Regions from separate parts of the Homo sapiens genome. Here region 1 is linked to region 2. Evidence: fine-mapped expression QTL. A gene starts in region 2. The other region holds a variant in brackets. All regions are shown on one strand. Distances are from middle to middle. Region 1 has its middle 57 kb from the start of SELENOK. Region 2 holds the start of IL17RB (interleukin 17 receptor B).

Evidence for each region. PIP is the estimated chance that this variant, and not a neighbour inherited with it, causes the effect.
Region 1: its variant is fine-mapped to the expression of IL17RB in skin (TwinsUK, PIP 0.95).

What each region holds. Positions count from the first base shown.
Region 1 is chr3:53,944,774-53,953,108 of GRCh38, reverse strand. No RefSeq gene overlaps it. Among named protein-coding and RNA genes, the nearest start is that of SELENOK, 57 kb to the right of the region's middle. The variant TG/G (reference allele first, on the strand shown) is at 3,894.
Region 2 is chr3:53,842,928-53,851,241 of GRCh38, reverse strand. It overlaps IL17RB (interleukin 17 receptor B), which reads right to left and starts at 4,674. Exons shown (of 11, transcript NM_018725.4): 1 at 4,594-4,674; 2 at 2,554-2,578; 3 at 1,447-1,587. The coding sequence starts at 4,653. CHDH (choline dehydrogenase) reads left to right here and starts at 4,823. Exons shown (of 9, transcript NM_018397.5): 1 at 4,823-5,159. RefSeq lists enhancers at 4,626-4,920, 4,867-5,707, 5,708-6,548 and a silencer at 4,626-5,275.

The sequences.
Region 1 (8,335 bases), 100 kb before region 2:
TTGGAATTACAGGGACTTATTTTTCTGTTTGTCTGAACTCCTTAATTTTTCTCCAGTGAACACAGATAATGTGTAAAAAGCAATCAAAGTTGAAAACTATAAATGTTTGTAAAAGTGTCAAGACATTTAAAAGTCTTCACAAAATATATCTAGGGCTTTGTCAGACTCTAAATACTTGACATTTGACTTGATAAATTTTGTTGATCCCAAATTTCCCACAATTTCCCTGCTTCAATACATGAAACAAGTTCACAGAGTTGATGCCTAGTACAACAAAACAGAAAGTCCTGAAATACTAATTAAAGATGGTCAAACAATTTGGTAATAGATATTAAACAATTCAATATTTACATAACATAGTTAATAAGAAATGGTATTTACTATCAGGGATTTGTTTCCAAAACATTCTAGTAGCTTAGAAAAATGAATAATTCCAAGGTGATTCAAACCAACAAGTGCTCCAAATGGAATCTCTTCACAAACAGTGCTGCATCAATTATATAAACAGTAGCTAACTTGGCTTACTAAGGAACAAACTTTTTCAGATGCCAAGGAATGTTCATAGTTTGCACCTTAAATTTGCTGCAACTTCAAGGCTATGCATTGCAGCATTACGTATAATAGAGACTGGAAGCAATCCAAATGATCATCACCAAGAATCTAGCTGAATAAACCATGGTGCTGTGCAATGGAGTACTATGTCACTCAAAAAAAGGAATGGGAAAGATCTCTACTGCCATGGCATAATGACTAGGATATATTGTTAAACGAAAAAAGCAAGAAGCATGGGGACAAGGTTGATAGTAAGGTACCTTTCTTTTGGTAAGAAACGGGGAGGGGAGAAACATATCTATGGCTCTGTCAAACTCCAAGTAACCTGGCATTTGACTTGATACACTACATGTTATTAATTAATTGATAAAAATACATGTTTGCCTTTGGGAGGCGAAGGCAGGAGGATTACTTGAGGCCGGGAGTTCAAGATCAGCCTGGGCAATAAAGCAAGACCTTGTCTTTATGAGAAATAAAAAATATAATTAGCCAGGCATGGTGGCATGAGCCTGTAGTCCCAGCTGCTTGGAAGGCTGATGCAGGAAAATCATTTGAGCCCAGGAGTTTGAGGCTGCAGTGAGCCATTACTGCACAATTGCACTACAGCCTGGGCAACAAATCAAGATGCTCTCTCTAAAAATAAATAAATTTATCCTGGTCAACTGGTTGAAAGGCCATATATGTGTGTATATGTTTGCTTTTATTTTCATATATATTTACATATATGTATATATATATACACACACACATATGTATATGTTTGCTTTTATTTTCAAAAAAGTAAAAAGCAAGGGATAATCCAAAAACTTAAAAAAAAAAGTTACCTGTGAGGGAAGAAGGGGACAAGTTAGAAGGAATTGGGAAAGAAGCTAGACTTCTTTATGTATTTTATTGTGTAGTTTTGACTTTGAAACTGTATAAATGTTTTATATACTTAAAATTTTTAAATAAAAAAGAAAAACATTTACTGCATCTTGATTGAAGTTTATTTTGGCTAATAATATCTTTCACTTCTACTAAGTTGGAATTTAATAAGTAGAAATGATAAATCGTTCTAGTTTCATTATCCCTGAAACTTAATTCTTTGTCTATTTGACCTGTTAAGCCAAATTTTATCAGTTTCCCACAAATATTTTTTTCTTTCCTACCAGTTTTTCTATGCCACTGATACAGAGTTTAGTGTCAAATAAGAGGTAAGTGTTTTTTAACATGCTAGTATCTTCCCATAAAAGAAACAAACTTCTTATTCCTTCAAACCTGTGTTCCAATGTTTCAGAATAATCATTCCGAAGTGATTTCAGAATAATCATTTCATTGAGTGACTACTACATGTCAGGCACTCTAATTTTAAACATTATGTATATGCTATCTCACTCACTCTGCCCAATGACCCTATGAGGCGAACACGCTCAGTATCTCTATTGTACAGGTGAAAAAGCTAAAGCAGAGAGAGATTAAGTCACCTGCCCAAAGTCACCTGCTTTTTCTTTATAACAACTTCACAATTTTTTTGCATATCATAAAATTCACCCAGTTCAAGTGTACAATTCATTATTTTTAGTAAGTTTACCAAGTGGTGCAACCATACCATACATCCGTTCCGGAACATTTTCATCCCTCCAATAAGATCCCTCATGCCCATTTACAGTTACTTCTTACTAATACTCTGAGCCCCATGCAACAACTAATCCACCTTGTCTGTATAAATTTGCCTTTTCTGGACATTTCATATATATGGGATCATGTATATATAGTCTCTTGTGTCTTGCTTCTCACACTTAGCATAATATTTTTGAGCTTCATCTGTGATGTGGTGTCAGTAGTTCATTGCTTTTCATTGCTGAATAGTATTCCATTGTATGGTTATACCCCATTTTGTCTATCGGTTCACCAGTTGATGAACATTTGGGTTGTTACAGGTTTGGCCTATATGGATAACACTGTTATGAATAGCTGTATGCAAGCCTTACATGTGGATTTATGTTTTCATTTTTCTTTCATCTCTCTCTACCTAGGAGTAGAATTGTAGTGTCCTATGGTAGTTTTATGTTTAATTTTTTGAGAAACTGCCGAAGTGTTTTCAAAGTGGCAGCATCATTTTACATTCCTACCAGCAGCGTATAAAAATTCCTGTCTCTCCACATCCTAACCAACATTTGTTATTGTCTTATTTATGATAGGCATTCTAGTGAGTGTGAAATGCTGTCTCACTGTGATTTTAATTTGCATTTCAAAATGACTAATAGCATTGAACATCTTTCCATGTACTTATTAGCCATACATACATACACCACACACACATACACACACACACACACACACACATTTTGCTGGTGAAAAGTCTATTTATATCTTCTGCCAATTTTTTAATTGGATTTTTGTCTTCTTATAATTGAATTGTAAGTGTTCTTTGTAAATGGTGGATATAAGTCCTTTATTGGATATATGTTTTGAAAATATTTTCTCCCAGTCTGTTTCCTGTCCTTTCATTTTCTTAATAGTGTTTTTTGAAGTTCAAAAGTTTTGAATTTTGATGAGGCCCAATTTAACAATTTTTTTCTTTTACTGATGTGCTTTTTTTATTGTTGTATCTAATACATTTTTTCTTAACTCATGGTCTAGAAAATTATATGTTTTCTTCTACGAGTTTTACTGTTTTAACTCTTACATTTAAATTATGATTCGTTTTGAGTTAATGTTTGTATATTGTATGAAGCAAGGATGTAAGTTTATCTCTTTACATATAGATATCTAATTATCCCAGCACCATTTGTTGAATAGACTATCCATTCCCCCAGAGAATTGCCTTGGCATCTTGCCAAAAACCAACTGACTACAGAAGCAAGGATTTATTCCTGGACTGTTAATTCTCTTCCTTTGATTTATGTATCTGTCCTTATGCCAGTACCACACTATCTTGATAACTGTAGTTTAACAGTGAATTTTGACATTGGGAGATGAAAATCCTCCAATTTTACTCTTCTTTTTCAAAATTGTTTTGGCTATTTTAGGTGTTTGCATTTTTCTATAAATTTTAGGATCTGCTTTTCAATTTCTGCCAAAAAAAAAATCCCGCCGGAATTTTGATAGGGATTGCGTTTATCTATAGATCAATTTGGGAGGAACTGGCATCTTAATAATACTGGGTCTTTCAAACACTAGACATGGAATGTCTCTCCATTTACTTAAATCCTCTCTAATTTCCCTCAGCAAAGCTTTGAAATTTTCAGTGTATAGCCTTACACTTCTTTTAAAAATTTTATTCCTAAGTATTTTTGATACTACCGTGAACGGAATTATATTCTTTTTTCTTTTTTTTCTTTTCTTTTTTTTTTTTTTTT[TG/G]GCAGGGGCTTGCTCTGTCACCCAGGCTGGAGTGCAGTGGTGCAATCACGGCTTACTGCAGCCTTGACCTCCTGAGCTCAAGTGATACCCTTACTTCAGTCTCCCAAGTAGGTGAGACCATACAGGTGCACCATGACACCTGGCTAATTTTTTTTCTACTTTTGGTAAAGACAAGGTCTCCTTCTGTTGTCCAGGCTGGTTTCAAACTCCTGGGCTCAAGTGATCCTCCCACCTTAGCCTCCTAATGTGCTGGAATTACAAGCATAAACCACCATGCCCAGCCTGAAATTATAACCTTAATTTCATTTTTGGACTGTTCATTGCTCATACAAATACAGCTGGTTTCTGTATAGTGATCTTGTATCCTGTGACCTTACTATATTTGTTTATTAGTTCTAACAGGGTGTGTGTGTGTGTATTCCTTATAGTATTCTACATATAGAATCATGAATTCTATATATAGGATCCTCTGTGAACAAAAACAATTTTACTTTTTCCTTTCTAATCTGGATGCCTTTTATTTCTTTTTCATTCCTGATTTCACTGTCTAGAACCACCAGTACAATTCTGAATAAAAGAGGTGGCAGCAAGGACAGCAAGGCAACCAAGTTGCCTTGGTCCTAATGTCAGGGGGAAAGCATTCAGTCTTTTACCATTAAGTATATTGTTCATCATGGGTTTTTTCATAGATGCTGTTTACCAGGTTATGGAAATGTCCTTCTAGTTTAATAACTTTTTTAAAATCATGAATGGGTGTTAGATACTGGTATATGGTTTTTCTCTATCTATTGAGACGATTATGTTGTATTTGGTGTATTACATTAGTTGATATTTGGATGTTAAACCAACCTTGCATTCCTAGGTTAAATCCTACTTGGTCAAGGTGTATAATTTTTGGAGTATATTACTGGATTCAGTTGGCTAATTTTTTTGAGAATTTTTACATCTATATTCATAAGGGATACAGGTCTATAGTTTTCCTTTCTTATGATGTCTTCTCCTGGTTTTGGCATCAGGGTAACACTGGCCTGATAGAATGCATGGGGAAGTATTTCACTCTGTATTTTCAGAAAAAAAAATTTGCAGTACTGGTATAATCTCTTATTTAAATGTTTGATAAAATTCACCAGTGAAATCACCAGACCCTGGGCTTTTCTTTGTGTGAAGATTGTTAAGTATTAATTTATTATCTTTGCTTTTGAAAGGTCTATCAGATTTTTAATTTCTTCTTGAGTAAATTTCAGTTGCTTGTGTCTTTCTAGAAATTTGCCCCTTTCATGTGAGTTATCCAATTTGTTGGCATAAAGTTGTTCATCAAAGTCACAATGCTTTTAAGGAGTGAATCTGTATTTGAACAAAAGGGGGTCTAATTCAAGCTCCCACCCTTTACTGTTATGCATACCACCTTCCATTTATTTTTTACTCAATATACTATTTCAGAAACTAGGCATAAAATGGCAGGCATAGAGAGGATAATTCAGTCCATTCTCAGAAGGAGTAGCAATGACAAAACCCATCAATCAGGGACACAATTTTCAAAATAAACTGGAACATGTACTTTACAACTATATCCTCCTGGCTTTAAAACACCGTAGATGTTTCCAGATGTGACTTCTTGACTGCTTGTATTCTGAGGTCAAGAAGCCCAAACATCATTAGAATCTTTGCAACAGGAGCAGACTGCAAACATAATATGTGCAATAGTGAGCATTCTCTGTATTGGTAGCTTTACAAGCAAAGTAAGTGTTGTTTTTTAGCAATTTTGTTCATTCTCATAAATCTAAATGGAAAATTATGTTTGTGAATAAACAGAAAAATATGAATTCCAGAATTTTATGGCTAAGACTTTAGAGATCACCTAACCTAATCTCTTCCAGGTTTTTTTTGGTGTGTTTGTTTGTTTTTGAAACAGGGTCTCCCTCTGTCACTCAGGCTGCAGTGCAGTGGCATGATCTTGGCTCACTGCAACCTCCGTCTTTGGGGCCCAAGTGATCCTCCCACCTCAACCTCCCAAGGAGCTGGGACCATAGGCATAGACCACCACACTCAGCTAATTTTTGTATTTTTTGTTGAGTCAGGGTTTCACCATGTTGCCTAGGCTGGTCTTGAAGTCCTGGGCTCAAGCAATCCACCAGCCTCAGCCTCCCAAAGTGCTGGGACTATAGGTGTGAGCCACCACACCAGGCCCATCCAATTTTCATAGGTAAAGAAAACACAAACCCTGGCTGGATGTGGTGGCTCATGCCTGCAATCCCAGCACTTTGGGAGGCTGAGGTGGGCGGATCAAGAGGTCAGGAGATCGAGACCATCCTGGCTAACACGGTGAAACCCCTTCTCTACTAAAAAAATTATGAAAAATTAGCTGAGCATGGTGGCAGGCACCTGTAGTCCCAGCTACTCAGGAGGCTGAGACAGGAGAACGGCATGACCCCGGGAGGCGGAGCTTGCAGTGAGCCAAGATGGCGCCACTGCACTCCAGCCTGGGAAACAGAGCGAGGCTCCATCTCAAAAAAGAAAGAAAAGAAAAGAGAGAAGAGAAGAAGAGAAGAGAAGAGAAAAAAAGAAAAGGAAAGAGAAAGAAAGGAAGGCAGGCAAGAAAGCAGAAACCCTAAGAGAGCAACTTTAATTGAATTCACAAGGGCAGTAAGAGAGCAACTTTAATTGAATTCACAGGGGCAGTTGGTGGCAACTGAGATGTAGTCAGGTTGGTTGGGGAGCAAACATATAAAGGAAAAAAGAAAAGATGAGGAAGATTGTCCAGGATAGCATGGTTATTTCTTGGTGCATCAGCATCTTTTAATTCCAGGCTGGTTTAAAAATCAACATAGAAATGTTTAAGAATCTCAAATTATTAGTGAAACACCAGGGGTTTGATCTAGGTCCTGCTGCTCACCACACAGAAAGCCAATCACTGAAACAACAAATATTGCCAGGGAAGAAGGCTTTAATCAGGAGCTGCAGCCAAGGGGATGGGAGATCAGTCTTAAATCTGTCTCCCTGACTGACTAAAATAGCAGGGAGAAAATGTAACCATGTGGGAAAACAGGAATTAGGGAGAGGTAAGGAAGAGGAATTGGTCAACAGGAAGCAGGTGGTGGGCTAGGCAATCATGACAGGTGAGGGGTCTGGCCTCTCATTGTCCAGATGTGGTAATCTGGTAAGTTTCAGTTCCTTGATGTTATCTGGGAGGCCTGATGGTTGGTTTTCTGAGAAAGGAACTCAGATAAGACAAATGTAACTTTTGCAAGTTTCAAAAGTGGGAGGGTCAATTTCTATGTTTATTCAAAAGAAACCACAAACATCAGTTCTATGGGACAATTGGGTGGTTTCAAAATATGTAGCATTAATATTTTCAGGTGAAGAACTCTATGCATGTTTGGTGATGTTTTATGTACTTATATAATGTTTAAGAGAATTGAGCCTAATGGAATAAGAGGTTATTCTTTTGATTCTAATTTTAAATATGTAATTGATGTAGACTTGTGATGTTAAGTTCAGATTTAATAGGTTTATTACAGAATTGAATACGTTAAAAGAACTAAAAGTTTACCATATTTCTAAGTCTAATATATTAGATTTATAAGTTATTTAAGTGTTCGGGAAGGTTTTGTTAAGTCAGACAATTATAGTACCTAAAAGGAAATTGAATATATTAAATTTATAAAAGCAGTTTAAAAGTAGTTTAACCAAGTTTTTAAATGGGACCAAACATTAATCAAAGCCTCCTTAGAAGTGACTTATAACTTGCTAGGCTTATAAATAAAATAATAAGATTTGTAATCTAAACTTAAAAGCTTAAAAATACAAAAGATTTTCTTTAAATTCTAACTAATAAATCAAAGACCAATTTAAAAATCAAAGGTACTTCTGAATAATCTCTCCTGTGCACAAAAACTATCATCAACGACCTTGAAAATCATATTCAACAACTCAGAGAGAATGTGTCTTTGGTAAGATGCTGTCATTAGACAGGCGGAGTGCCAGTGCCAAACACTAAGGGGCCCACAGGCCCCTCATGGTGCCCACACAGGAGTCTAAAACAGCCAACCTGTACAGATATTAGCCAGGCAACCAAAGATATGGAGTTGCTTAGCATTTTCCACAAAATAAAGCCATGCCACGGTGGCAGGATACTATTTTAAAATAGAGCACAATAAATAGAGGGGTCAATGACTAGCTTTTTAATTACAAAAGCTTCTCCTTGCATTAATTAGAAGATTTGCAAGAATGTACAGTAGGGGATAGCTTTCCTGTCCAACAGCTGTCCCTTCTCCATCCCAGGCTAGATAAAAATTTCATGGGCTTCATGGAAAAAAGGCAGTGGGAAACAGGGGGAAAAAAATCATAGATATTGATCCATCCCTGCGAAGGGGCCCTGAACCTTCCCTTTCTGGACCAAATTCCTGGTGAAGGGGAGGATTAACTTCTCACACAGACAATT
Region 2 (8,314 bases):
CACTCATGGATTCTTGACCAGGTAGACTTTTTTCCGATCTGAATTTAGCAGATGGAAACCAAAAGGATGGGCATTAGGATCCCAGGAGTAGCTCACTGAAAGAACTCATATGGTGCCTTGCAGCACAATCTTGGGGAAATGCCAAAAGCTTCGTGACGTCATCTGGGAAGTGGAAAAGTAATCTATCTAAGCCAGTGCTTTCCCTAAACTGAAGTGGGGTGGGGAAAATCATCTCTCGCCTTACCTTATCTTCTTCCATGAAGTACATACACAGAAAAGTACACACATAAGTGTACCACTTGATGCATCGGGACACTCATGCAACCAGTATGCAGGTTAAGAAACTCCCTCAGGTGTGCTCCTCATACTTCCTTACAGTTATTCCTACCCCAGCAGGAACCACTACCCTGACTTTTATTTTATTTTATTTTATTTTATTTTGAGACAGTCTCTCTGTCACCCAGGCAGGAGTGCAATGGCACAGTCTCAACTCACTGCAACCTCCACCTCCTGGGTTCAAGTTATTCTCCTGCCTCAGCCTCCCAAGTAGCTGGGATTACAGGCATGTGCCACCATGCCTGGCTAATTTTTTGTATTTTTAGGAGAGATGGAGTTTCACCATGTTGGCCAGGCTGGTCTTGAACTCCTGACCTCAAGTAATCTACCCGCCTTGGCCTCCCAAAGTGCTGGGATTACAGGCATGCGCCACCACGCCTGGTCTTTTGCTTTTTTTTTTTTTTTTGAGACGGAGTTTCACTCTGTTGCCCAGGCTGCTGGAGTGCAGTGGTGCGATCACAGCTCACTGCAAGCTCCGCCTCCTGGGTTCAAGCGATTCTCGTGCCTCAGCCTCCCGAGTAGCTGGGATTACAGGTGTGCAACACCACATCTGGCTAATTTTTGTATTCTTAGTAGAGATGGGGTTTTGCCATGTTGGCCAGGCTGGTCTCGAACTCCTGGCCTCAAGTGATCCACCCACCTCGGCCTCCCAAAGTGCTGGGATTACAGGCGTTAGCCACCGCTCCTGGCTACTATCCTGACTTCTAAACACTAGATTGGTTTTGTTTGCTTGGCACTTTCTGTAAATGGGATCATATGGCATGTATGCCTGCAGGCATGCACACAGATATAAATGTACAAACTCTTTTGAATCTGCCTTATGTTTGTGACATTCATCCATATTGTTGTACGTAGTTACAGATCATTCATTCTTGTTGCTGTGACGGAATTTATCTGGTGATTCCTTTCTACTGTTGGGCATTTGAGTGCTTTCTAATGTTGCCTGTTGTAAGTAGTGCTACTGCGATCACCCTAGTATGTGGCTTTTGGTGCGTGTATGCATGTATTTCTGTTGGTTATGCGTAGAAGGGGAATTAATGGTTCATATAGTCTGCACATTTCTGATTTAGTAGACACTTTGGGCCTTATCTCTGATGGATGCAAACTTACCATCTGCCCGGAGTACCCAGCTTACATTCATCAAAATTGAATAGTCCCCTGTTGCAACACTAGTTGTAACAGGTTCTACTCGGAGGTCCCTCAAGTCTCCGGGGATTAGATCATGTTGTAGCATCCACTCTGGAGATGGCCCTGGGAAAAAGCAAGACTTCCATGACACTGTCTTTCCCAGCCCAGTCTGATGCCATGCCATCTCCTCTCAGTGACTCACACCAAACCTTCCCCCATTCACAATTCCTCACTTCTTTTTTTTTTAATTAAAAAAATGTTTTTTGTAGAGATGGGGTCTCACTCTGTTGCCTAAGATGATCTCAAACTCCTGGCCTCAAATGATCCTCCCACCTCAGCCTCCCAAAGTGCTTGGATTATAGGTATAAGCCACCACGCCTGACCCAATTCCTCAGTTCTTCCTGCTAAGGCCAAATGTTTCTTAGCGCTGGCTGATTTATAGCCCAGATAATTTTGATCTAACAGAAGTACTCTCAACCTCCTGGCTTTCACCTACAGAGCACGTGGGACCACTCCAGGTACCTGTGTATGTACACATGTATATATTTAGTGTATTTGACATGTTTATTAGAGTCAGGCCTGCCTTCCTCAGGCTTTGGCCCTGGATTCCAGCCAGCTGGCCCACACAGCCCCCACTTTCCCACCTCCTAACCTTTGCTGGTGCCATCTCTCCTCCAGCTCACTCTTCCTACCCACATTTTTTGGGCAGAAGCCTACCCATTCTTCAAATGCCACCATCTCAAACACCCGCTCTCCTATGAAACATTTGCTTCTCGGTCCCAACTCTAAGTGACCTTCCTTCCACGGCCTTGATCTCCCTCTGCAGAGTGGCAGGCATCACTTTCCACCTTGTATGGCAAGTCCCATCTTGACTGGCCAAGAGGCTAGCCTGTCTGAAACACGGCCTCATTCCCACAGAGCCCCAGAGTTCTGCTTCGAGCAGACAGAGACTTCATCTGCATCAGCCAATAAAGCAATGGGTCACCCTGTGTCTGGTCTTCGATGACCTATTGCCTATATTAGGCTTCCTAAAAGTCCAACTGTGCTTTCAATGTAAAGCCCCAAATACCCATTCTCTAATGCACCTACCAGTTTCAGAGCCACATTGAACGGTCTGTGGGAGAGAAAAAACCAAGCGTCACGTTGAAGCCGGCAAACCACAAGCTTTCCTTTGCCAAATTAGGCAGAACACCATTTTCCCCTTAAATGCATATACAAGTGACAAACTTTCAAAGAAAAGATGAACTGGTTCTGCTTCACAGCTTAGGGGGGAACTAAGCTGTCCCACTGTAGGCTATGACGGACCATGGATTAGCCATCAGTATACCTGATCCTCAAGCCAGTGCATAACCTCACTTGAAGACCACAGGTGGGTCTCCATCTGTCTCTGGATGTCATCCTTCCCTGCTGCAAGCAGGGGATGACTTGGGACCGATGTGAGGCCCCTTCACACTCTAATGTTTAACTCTAGGTTTTTAGGACGGCCTAGAGTATTTACTGGGCTACCCCAGGTTAAGGAGTAGCTATGCTAAGGAGATAAACAAAAGAAAGCTCTGAATGCAGTCCATGGTACTTTCCTCAGGTTCTTTAAAATGTTCCCCTTCTAACACAAAAGGACTCACTGAGCAATTCACGAAACCATAAGCAATTATTAGTGTTCAAGAAAGGCTGGTACTAAATCGTTTGAAGTTAGCTGCTCGTGTTTTTTCATAAGAAAAAATAATTTGTGCTTTGGTTCTGGAATAAAATACTGAACCTAAAATATTGGGGCTTTAGGCAGCAGCAAGCTCAAATGACAAGACTCAATGTGATACGTCCAGCAGCTCTGGAATATGCTGCTGAGCATCCACATTTCCAAACACCTTCTAAGATCTCCTTTTGATGGTTTGAATGATTTGAGTTTGGGCAAAATTGTCAATCATTTATTTGTCTTTTAAAAAATGAACTCTAAGGGATATCATCAGATTTTTTTTTCCTTTTTCTGAGACAGAGTCTCACTTTGTCACCCAGGCTGGAGTACAGTGGCGCAGATCTCGGCTCACTGCAACCTCTGGCTCCCGGGTTCAAGTGATTCTCCTGCCTCAGCCTCCGGAGTAGCTGGGATTACAGGCGCCTGCCACCATGCCCGGCTACTTTTTGTATTTTTAGTAGAGACGGGGTTTCACCATGTTAGCCAGGCTGTTCCCAAACTCCTGACCTCAGGCAATCCGGCCGCCTCAGCCTCCCAAAGTGCTGGGATTACAGGCGTGAGCCACCGAGCCCGGCCAGACTTGACTTTTTTTTTTTTTTTTTAACAAATGAGCCATCATACCAGGAGCTGAGTTCTTATCAAACGGCCGGTGAGAGGCCAAGCAACAACCCTAAATGCTACCAAGCTCAAATTGTTGGCCTTGCAGCAACTACAGCAAAAGGGATGAATTCTTCCCTTTAGTGCAAAGAGCCAAGAGGGCTTCTGAACTGACACAGAGGGGAAGGATAGGAGCTGAAGACATCAGGAAACAGTGAATGGGGTTTGTCCACCAGCAGGTGACTACGGAGCTTGATGCTATATGCTATTCTAAGAGGGCAGCGGTATCATTTCAAAGGTTATTTGGGGGATGAGCTATTTTCTCTTCAGTGACCCAGAAGATTCCCTCGATCATTCAGGGTACTGGGGAAGAAAGGCAACTGCCTTCACGAGTGAACATGGCAATCAATATGGCCAAAAAGGGAGGGGGTACTAATGGAGAAACAGTTCTTGTGCCCCAACAGGTGAGCAGACCCCAAGTAACAATAACTACGTGCCAGGCCCTTCGCCGCTAATTGCAGGCCATGTCGTTATACCTTAAGAGACCCTGGTGGGTTCGGTACTGCCCTTCGTTTTACCGTTCGGGACTTGGAACTTGGTGAGCATAAATGACAGAACCAACAGTACAGGGTGGCATCTGAGACCGGGTCTGTCTGATTCCCACGCCCCTGACTCAAGCAACCTGACGCCGATGTCCGGGGCTGCCCTGAGGGTGCAGGCATGCCCCTTGAGCCGGCAGTCCGCGCACGCCTTCGGGGCAGCCTGGACTGGCGGATCAGACGACGTCAGGATCTGGGCTCGAGGGCCGGGAGATGAGGGAAGAGGTGCTGGCGGGGGCTTACCGGCTCTCGGGGTACGGCGCTCCTGCACAGCGCGGCCAGGCTTAGCAGCACGAGCGACATCGCCGGGCCACTGCGCGGGATCCAGGCCACCCGCACGCTGCGCTTTTATCCCGGCGCCGCCGGGCCGCCCCTTCTCGGCTCCGCCTCTCGCAGCGCCGACCCATTCCCGCCACCCGAACAGAGGGCGGGCCCGCTGGCCCCCTCCCAGGCTGGGGCAGGTCGCAGCGCCCTCGCCTGCTGGGGCTCGGAGGGATGGGCCGTGTCCGAGCGCTGGCGGAGCACGGGCCGCCGCGGCGCGCGCCTACCCCCGCGCACACGTGCATGCAGTGAGCCAGGTGCATCAGCTGCACCCGCCCTCGGGCTTCGCGCGCCTCCGCTGGAGCCCAGCTAGCCTCGCGGCTCCGGGGCCGACCGGGTCGGAACTGCTGCGTCCCCATTCCGGACGCAGAGAGCGCGCGGGGCGCCGGCGCCGCCGGTTAAAGTGCCGCGGGGCAGGGGCCGGGCCGCGGCCACCCGCTCCTCCCGCTCCGGTCCCGACTGTCGGGCTCTCGGCCGAGTCGCCCCGGGTGAGTAGCCGCGGAGGCGCCCCGACCACCCCGCAGCAGCGCCGCCCGGCCGCTAGCCCGGAGAGGCCTGGGGGCCGGAGGTTTGGGGCCGGGCTGGACGCCGAGACCCGGGCCCGCTTTACACAATCGCCCCGCCGCGCGAAGCGAAACGGGTGGAACGCAGACTGCCGAAGCTCACTGACTCCTTTGAGGGAGCGAATTCTTTCAGCTACGCGGGGTTAGAGCGGTAGGAGTGCCCGCTGCCCGACCCCAGGCTTTCTGGTAAATGTCTGTTTCCACCAAGTGAGTTCGGACAGCAACACCTGGGGCTCCCAAAGCGGAAGCCGTCAGCACTGGCGATTTGGAGCTGCGGTTCTCAAGTTTCCCTGGCCCGGGATCTCTAGCGCCGCCTAAAATGAGATCCAGACGGCAGGTCCGGGTCAGGCCCGGGATCTGCATTTAACGAGCCTCCACCCACGCCCCCGTAATTCGTGGGTGGGTGGCCCAGGGACCATCCTTTGAGACACAGTGGGTTTGGGGGAAAGTTCACAAAAATCAGCTGGGCTAACAGTGGAGTCACAGAGGCTGGAACTGCTGCTTCAGCCCCCTCGGTTTGCAAACGACAGGGTTGTGGTGACCAACTCAGGGCCATTTAAACTTGTAGGCAGAATTAGCTCCATTCTACAGATGAGAAGACGGAGGCCTAGAGAGGGGTATGGAACTTAGGGGTGTGTTGTCAGCTGGTGAGAGGCTGTACTAAGTCAAGCAGCTGTTTTAGCTGAGGCCCTACTTGTGTGCCAGGCCTGGCCCACCTGCCAGCTTGATTAAGGCTTGCATGGACTGGGGATCAGCCAGGGGTTTGGGCTCTGGCATGCATACGTGTGGAGTTGCAGGTAGCATTTTCAGAGAATTGCTCTGTTTCCTGACCAAGGAACTCAGTTGAGGTTGTGGCCGCACCCCTGCCTGGGACTGGGCCACCCTGAGCCCCTCATTCCACCTCTCTGAGTTGCTTTGGGCCCTGTGGCCCTTGAGAACATTTTCAGCTCTAATAGTCATCTTCCTGTTCAGCAAATACCTGCTGGGTGCAAAGGTGAACCACACATGGGTGCTGGCTGATGGGTACTCCTGGAGTGAGGATGAGTGCAGTGAGAATTATTTTCAAGGACACAAGTACCCGCCTTGCTGCGGAAGCCCAGATGAAAACAGCCTCGTCTGCAAGCTCAAGATTGTGAACTTTGTCCCATGGTGCTGAGGAACAATGGTACAGGCTTAAATGGTCATCCATTTTTGGTTTTAGAAAGGCCACCTGGTTGGCTCTGCAGGGCAAAATAGAGGGCTAGTCCCTCTGAGACGAGCGAGCAGGCAGCCATTCACTAACATGCGTTCATTCCGTGAGTATCTGATTCTGTGCTGTGGGCCAGGCTCTGGGCTGTGCTGGCTTTTCAGTTGTGTGCCAGGGCAGGCCCTGCTGTGAGCTTGGTGTTGTTCGGCACACAGGCTTTGAGACAACCAGGGTGCGGAGGTTAGGCCTGGAGACAGGGTTCATGAGTCAGACTTTCTCAGGGGGCAGTGGAGAGGAGAGGAGGATAGAGCCCTGGGGAGGAGAGCTTGCCTGAGGAGGTGGGGAGGTCTAAGGGGCTGCAGCAGGAAAGCCCAGTAGTGAGGGAGGAGCTCATGGGGTCAGATGGGGCAGAGAGACCAAGGGCACTGAGGCTGGTTGGTGGCAGTCACAGGAAGCCTTGGCAAAAGGATAGGGGAGGGGGTTTTGTAAAAAGAGAAGGGCTGAGGTTCTTTCTCCCCCCAGGGGAAGAAGTGTCAGGTGAGGGTGGTCTGGAGGTGGCTGAGCTGTAAGAAGGAGGAGTACTCAGGCAGGGGCTGCCAGGCAGAGACCCAAGACCCAGGCCAAGTGGCTTTCCTGCTGTTCTGGGTTCAGAATGACACTGCCCTGGCCCCCTGGGGCTTAGGGATGGGGTGATACCTGGTTCAGTTTCGTAGTTGGGGCTGTGGAGTGGAGGAGAGGGTGTGAAGGGCCCTGTAGCCACAACTGGAGGTTGAGGTGGGCAAACAGGTGTGTCTGCCTGTCCCCTCGGGGGTTTTCCCCCCTAGCTCAGAAGGCCATGCCTCAAGTGGCCCTGCATGAGAGGTCCCAGGTGGCCTGCCGGAAGGCACACAATTTATTTGGCTGCCTAAGCCTGATGACTTTGTGGCTTTTTGAACTGGAGGCTCTGGCAAGTCACTGCTCTTCTCAGAGCAGTTTCCTTTTCTGTAAAATGGGGTGGTGATAGGGGCGATGAAGTGATTTGAGTCTATGAGAGAAGCGACCTTTGGACATTTTCTGACCTTCTCCCTTCAGTCATAAATTCTGCTAGGTCTGGGTTTCTGAAAGAGCTACCAGCCAGTGTGCCTTCCTGTCCGGGGGGGCTTTGTAGGGGGTGCTCATTAAATGCTTGAATGGATGAATAAATTAACACCTACCTTCATCCAAGGCCAGTGCCTGAGCCTGCCCACCCAGGGGAGCTGGTTTGAACTTCCTCCTCTTTCTTCACAAGCAGAGCAAAGGTCAGGGCCTCTGCCAGAGCCTGGAAGATCACTGGGTCAAGTACCTATGGCCCTGACCCAGACCCTAGGGTCTGCACAGACTCTGTGCAGCCACAGCGCGGTGAGATGCCTGGCTTCCAGACCACCTGGTTCTGCGGCTCATTCACCATCTGTTGGCCTTGAGTGAGGCTCTTAGTCTTTTGGAACCTGTTTCTCCATCTGTAACATGGGGCTGACATCAGTTCTGCCTCCCCAGCAGGGCTGTTAGGAAACGCAGAAGAAACAGCAAAACAGCAGATAGGAAAGCAAGTTGAAGGATTTAAGAGTGCTGTGTAAATTTAGGGGCAGGAGAGGCAGAACCAAAAAAAAAAAAAAAAGGTGGGGGGGGAAATTCCCTAGGACCCAAGAGTCACGGTAATCCCCAGATTCTGTCATTGTTATTCCGACCTTTGCTTCTTTGCCTGATCCATCCCTGGGAGAACAAGGCCATCAGGGTTGTTGACAAGTCCTGCGGGTCCAGCCTCCACCCACACAGGTGGAATTTTCCAGTTCGTTCTTTTGCAAATATTAATCAAGGCCCTGGCTGGTCAACAGTGGATTCATTGTCTCGTGAAGAGTGAGCCGTTTCTGGCACATAC